2 linked regions of the Homo sapiens genome follow. The protein of the gene in region 2 purifies or fractionates together with the protein of the main gene of each other region. This does not show direct contact. Each region holds a gene or a part of one and is shown on either strand. Other genes may lie near its edges.

Region 1 (2,632 bases), on a different chromosome or scaffold from region 2:
CTGCCCCCACTTCTGGATTCTGGATTTCCACTCTGTTTGCATCTACTACTTCCTTTTTTTTTTTGCCCTCTAATATGCTGGTGAATGCTATTAGTCCCATGTGATTAAATTTAAGAGTATATATAATATGAGTAGAATGACCCCATAAAATTTCAAGAAGTAGGTTAGGCAGCCAAAACTCAAGTTAATTAAGATAATACTACATACAAGGGGATGGTCTTGTTTTCTGGGAAAACTACATATCCAGAAATATCTTTTTAAATTCTATTCATTTTAACAAATGATGATGGTCCTAAAATGTCCATAGCTAACATCTGCACATGGCTTAAATTCATTATTGAAGATGGTAAGAAAAAAAATTTTTAATTATCTCTAATAAAACACAAGGATAATCTATGACAAGTAACTTTGAAATAGCAAGCCAATATTGATGCTCAGTGAGAAATGGATAGGATTCATTTTCTAGGAAAATGACTGTCTCCTTTCCCCTCCCCACAAAGAACAAGACTACATTATTACAAATGAGAAAAATGTTTATTAAGAAAACAATTTAGCAGCTCTCCTTTAGAATTTTACAGACTAAAGCACAACCCGAAGGCAATTACAGTTTCAATCATTAACACACTACTTAAGGTGCTTGCTTACTCTACAACTGGAAAGTTGCTGAAGTTTGTGACATGCCACTGTAAATGTAAGTATTATTAAAAATTACAAATTGTTTGGTGATTATTTTGATGACCTCTTGAGCAGCAGCTCCTGAAAGGAAAAAGGAGAAAAGCAAATCTTTGAAAGAGTAAACTTCAAGAGTTACATACTCAATTCTGTAAAGAAACTTTTCCTTTTCAAAAGCAAAGGTGTTTTAAAGTGACCCAAAACAGATGCAGTTAGCTTACTGAGTCATATCAACATAAAAGCCTATAATTCTTTTTGTTATTAAAGGAAATCTAAACAGTAGTGTGGTTGACCAAACTTTAAAGGATACACACAGGCATAAAAGATTCTCAAAGGACACCCTACTGCTGCATTTGAATTTTACCTTGTATCTGTTTTATAATAAAAAAGGAGAAAGGTATATTTGTTCTGAATGCATTTGTAATTTAGGAAGGATCTATATTAAATATCGCCAGACCGCTATATTTACTCAAAACAAAAAAACTACTAAGAAAAAAACTTGTGCATCTTCTATAACCTGAAGATTCCTCTTTCCCAAATATTCATGGACTGGATAGAATTTTTTTTTTTTTTTAGACTAGAGTCTCACTCTGTCACCCAGGCTGGAGTGCAGTGGCGTGATCTCGGCTCACTGCAACCTCCTCCTCCCAAGTTCAAGTGATTCTCTTGCCTCAGCCTCCCAAGTAGCTGGGATTACAGATGCCTGCCACCACACCTGGATAATTTTTTTGTATTTTTAGTAGAGATGGAGTTTCACCATGTTGGCCAGGATGGTTTTGAACTCCTGACCTCAAGTGATCCGCCCACCTCAGCCTCCCAAAGCGGAGGCCTTACAAGCATTAGCCACCGCGCTCAGCCGACTGGATAGAATTTGAGACTACTGTGCACCAAATACTGTTCTAGGCAGTAGGGATACAGTAAGGAAAAAAGACAAGAAGATCCACTTACCCTCATGCTACTTTTTAGCAGCAAGAGAGAGAGAATTTATTTACAAATAAATAGAATGTGTAGTATGTCAACTGACCATAGGTGCTAAGGAGAAAAAGCAAATAAGGGAGATATAAATACAAGAGAAGGGGTTTGTATTTTAAATAGGAGAGTCAGGGATGGCATCGCAGAGAAGACAGCATTTGAATAAAACCTGAAGGAAGTGAAGGGATATAATGGCACTGTGCAAAATGATTACAGAATGCACAGAAGTAAAAAACAAAAAAAAAAAAACAAAGAAAACCTTCAATTTATACTTTTTTCTGCTATAGTTAAGTCATCCAGTCCATCCATCTGGCTGTACCTCTTCTTAGATTCTGGACTGCATCTGAATAAATAATAATTTGCCCTTTTCTGTGAATTGGCAGAAAATTTTGCTACTTTGGCACAAGAGACTACTTGGTTTTAGTTTAAAATAAATTATTCTGAATCAGGCTTTAATTTGGATTTGCTTAGAAAATAGTTTTCTTAGGTCTGTATGATGCATTTACATTTTGAACACTTCAAATATTAATTAGACCTAAATCTGCCTTTAAAACATTCAACATCTAGAAGGAAAATGCCACAAGCTAATAGCTCAGTCTACAGGAGATCACAGGACAGTAATTTTTTTTGAGGGGTGTTATGGACTGAATGGTTCGTTTCCCCCTCAAATTCATATGTTGAAATCCTAACCCCCAGTGTAATTGTATGAGGATAGGGCCTTTGGTAGGTGATTAGGTCAAGAGCGTAGAACCTTCATGAATAGGATTAGTGCCCTAAGAAGAGACCCCAGAGACTTCTCTTGCCATTTTTTTTTTCACCATGTGAGAACACAGAAGAGAGAGCTGCCTATGAACCAGGAAATGGGCGCTCACCAGACCTGACCATGCTGGCACCCTGATCCCAGACTTCTAGCCTCCAGAACTCTGTGACAAATTTTTATTGTTTATAAGTCTATGATATTCTGTTACAGCAGCCCAAACTGACTAAG
Region 2 (3,832 bases):
GAGAGAAATATTAATCATACAATCTGTGTGCATATTTCTTTGGAGGAGATATTATTATGTATTCACCAAAGCACATCTTTTTGCTCTTAGGCCAGCAGGAAGACTAAATTTTCCCACTTTTTGTGGTCTATTTGAGGCCATGTGATTGAATTCTGGACAATGGAATTCAATTAATTGAATTAATTAATGCCACCTCCAGGCCATAAAGCCCCCGTGTAATCCGCCATGCATTTTGTTCCCACTTGGGGATGACCTTAGAGGCCACGTGATAAACTTGGCGACATCACAAGCTCGAGGGGTCTTATGTCCCTAAATGACTGCATGGAATGCAGACCATGCCCCCATTTCCTTTGAACTCTGCCATGAATGAGCAACAGATTTTATTGCATATATAACTAAAGTCTGGGCTAGTCTGTTATGTCGGTTAGCCTGCCCTAATACCTGTAGTGTTTGCATTTGTTTATATATCTTTTTTTAAAAGAAGATCTTGACTCATATCTGTTCCCTTATTTTGCCTGTATTCAATATATCTATAATCAGACTGTCTCCCATGTTTGACACATATTTGGATTTTTCCTAGTTATGTTGGGACATCCAGGTCTTATTACCCCAAATCAATTTCTGCCTTCCTCCGAAGAAAAGCTGTGATCTGTACTCATGCAGCTCTGTTGTGACGGCGTGTTGAAATGCGTCACAGAATCTGAGGACTGGAATGGGCCGTAGGAACTCCCTGACTTAAAACTATCAGTTTCCCTCTGGTGACACTGAGTGCTAGGGAAGTGTACTAATTTTCCCAAAGACCACCAGCAAGTTTGTGGCAGAGTAGGGCACATTTCATCCCATCCCAGGTTGCTTCCAGTGCCCTAGTCCTGGGAACTTTTTTTTTTTTTTTTTAATCAAGAAATGTTCTTTAATGAAAACTATCTTTCTGTGTTGGCTGGCCTGTGCTTACAATTTAATCCACAATACAATAGTTCAAGCCACTTTACCTGTAGACGTAAACAATTTTATTTGTAACCTCTTATAAGGAAGATGTTGCCATAGTATGTGGCTCCTGTTGCTGGTTGGCTTGAATGTCGACTGGATATTGATTATGTAATTTACTATTACATTGTTGAGAAGGATTTATTCAATATCGTACGTTTTAACCCATGTTGTATTCACCCTAACCTCATTCCCGCTGAGAACCGCTACAACCATGCAGACACTGTTGACTTCCCTAATTCATGTCTGTAGCTCCAACATCTTCCTGAGCTTCGGGCTTAAATATACAACCTCCAACTCAACGACTCCCCATGGATATGTACAGAACATCTCAAACTTGACATGCCCCAAGCTGAAGTCCTAATTGACCACCTCCCCAACACACTCACTCACTCCCCCCAGTCCCCTCTTTGCCCCTTGTCAGCTGAAGGCATCACCATTTACTTGATTACCACTGCAGGACAAATCAAAATAGACTTTCCCATAATTATGGTCTTCTCTTAGTCATCCACTCCAACCCATTAGCAATGTCTGCCAGTTCAGTATTCCAAGTATCTCCCAGCATTGATCATGTCTCACCACCCTGGTTTGGGCCACCATCATCTTCGCTGGCTGACTGAAATCATCTTCTCCCTCATCTCCCTGGTTCTTCTTCTGCAGCCTTTCGTCAGTTCTCCCAAGAGTCTACAGAGTGACCTTTTACATTGTAATCAGATCCTATTGTTCCCTTGACTAAAACTCTTCAAGAGCTTTCCATCTCACTTAAAGTCCAAGCATCTTGGCCTTCTCTGCACACTTCTGCATGATCTGACCCCCAAGTACTGGTGTTGTCTTGTCTGTGTCTACTCACTCCCTTCCTCTGCACTGGCCACTGTCTTGTCCCTCTTTTTGTCCTGCAGCCAAGCCAAGTTTTCCCCCTCATCAAGCCCTTTGCGTTCACTATTCCTTCCCCCAGTTATCTCATGGCTCATTCCTCCTCAGTCTTTGGGTTCTGCTCAGCCATGTCACCTCCTTGGAGACATCTTCCCATCCATCCTATCAAAAATGAGACCCACATTCTATCACTCTCCCCTTCCCCTGCCTCATTGTTTCTTAGCACTAACTGCTATTCTAAACATGTATCTTTATTTATCATCTTATTTAACATCTGTTTCTACTACCAGAATGGAATCTCTGTGATGGTTAGGCACTGCCATCTTCTCAGTGCCTGGCATACAAAAGGCACTCAAATATAGAAATGAATGAATCATGCTGAGAGCTAGGAAGAGTGAAGCACTGTGAAGTGGAGGAAAGAATGTCGGGTCAAGACCCAAAAGCCATGCCTTCTGTTCTCACCTGGGCTTCTGCTCTGTGATCTTGGGCAAGTCACTGAACCTCTCTGGGACTCTGTTGCCCATTGACAACAGGGGTTGGCAAACTTTTCTGTAAAGGGCCAGATAGACAATACAGCCCCTGTCACAACTACTCTGCTTTTATAGTGCAAAGCAACCACTCACTCATTATATAATGAATGGGCATGGCTGTGTTCCAATAAAACTTTATTTACAGAAACGGGAGATGGGCTGTGGCCCTGGGGCTGTAGTTTGCTAACCCTGGGTGGTTTCCAGAGTCCCTCATCTTTAATAGTCTGAGATCTCTTGCTTTGCTGTTGTCATCATGTTAAAGAAATTGTGAGTAACTTTAGAGAGAGGCCCTGTTGCACCCAATTTCAGTGACATTGGTGTTTGCTAAAGCAGAAAGGACAATTTTAGAAAAGAATTACAGTTGTCAAATGGGTAGAAGCAGACAAAGAGAGAAAAATATCCCAGAGAGAGATAACCATACCCACAATTGGATCAGACTTGATAATAAGAGGTTGGTGTTATTTGGGGTTGAGCAGTTATTCAGGTGGTGATTGAATGTCCTCCTTCTTAATAGCATACTCCCAGATAAGTAACTTCTTGTTATATTAATTAAACAAGTGAAAGTTATCTCCATGCAACATATTTGTAGATTAATTTCGAACCTGAATTTAAACACCTTCTAATGACTCACTTGACTCTTTTGCCATACCGTGAAATGGCACCGATGTGTAAAAGCCCAAATCCACCCCTTACACACTCCTCCACATTCTTTCTAATGCAGAGAACAGATGAGATTCATCCTAGGCTGGTAACACACAGATGGGGGGTTCCAAATAGACATGACTGACCTTTATAGACAAATTTCTCCAGCCAGAGTTTAAGACCGAGCAAGTGGCAATTGCATTTCCAGAGGTTGTCCTTGAGAAGTAAAAGCCTCACACTGGGCATGGATTCCAGGAGCGCTCGATCAAGCTGCTGAAGCTGGTTTTGTTGAACCGCAAGTATAGTTAGGTTCTCCCAAGTCTCTCCCAAGGATGTGGGAAGGTGGCTTATGTTGTTTGATGACAAATCAAGCTCCCTCAGCTGAGGGAGGGAATGGAAAAGTCTGCTTTCCAGGGAAAGGAGTGAATTCTGGGTTAGATTTAAAACCTGCAAGTGCTGAAGCCCATGGAAAGCTCCAGGGGCCAGATTTGAAAGGGAATTGTTGGACAAGTTTAAGGTCATGAGCCATGGCACTGACCTAAATGCAAAAGCAGGAAGATGGTGTATCTGATTATCTTGTAAATGCAGCGTTCGAGTCTGAGGAGGTAAATGGGAAGGGATTTCGGCCAGACCCTGCTGGCTGCAGTCTACAAAATTTGTAGATGACTGACAGTAACACTTGTCCGGGCAGCTGCATACCACCTGGAGCAGGACAATCACACTGGAAAACAGGAGCAGTTCACCTACAACAAACAGAAAGAAATTGGGATAGGAACCAGTTTGTGAGGTGTGGTATCAGCACT

What was found.
Region 1: the proteins of LRTM1 (region 2) and NAE1 purify together in Homo sapiens (affinity purification with mass spectrometry; one large-scale study listed by BioGRID and IntAct). This does not show direct contact.

What each region holds. Positions count from the first base shown.
Region 1 is NC_000016.10:66,802,363-66,804,994, forward strand, and holds the end of NAE1 (NEDD8-activating enzyme E1 regulatory subunit), read right to left. Parts: intron 757-2,632; coding exon 647-756; 3' UTR 516-646; downstream 1-515. UniProt on the Homo sapiens protein: Regulatory subunit of the dimeric UBA3-NAE1 E1 enzyme. E1 activates NEDD8 by first adenylating its C-terminal glycine residue with ATP, thereafter linking this residue to the side chain of the catalytic cysteine, yielding a NEDD8-UBA3 thioester and free AMP.
Region 2 is NC_000003.12:54,921,444-54,925,275, forward strand, and holds part of LRTM1 (leucine-rich repeat and transmembrane domain-containing protein 1 isoform 1 precursor), read right to left. Parts: intron 3,773-3,832; coding exon 3,176-3,772; intron 1-3,175.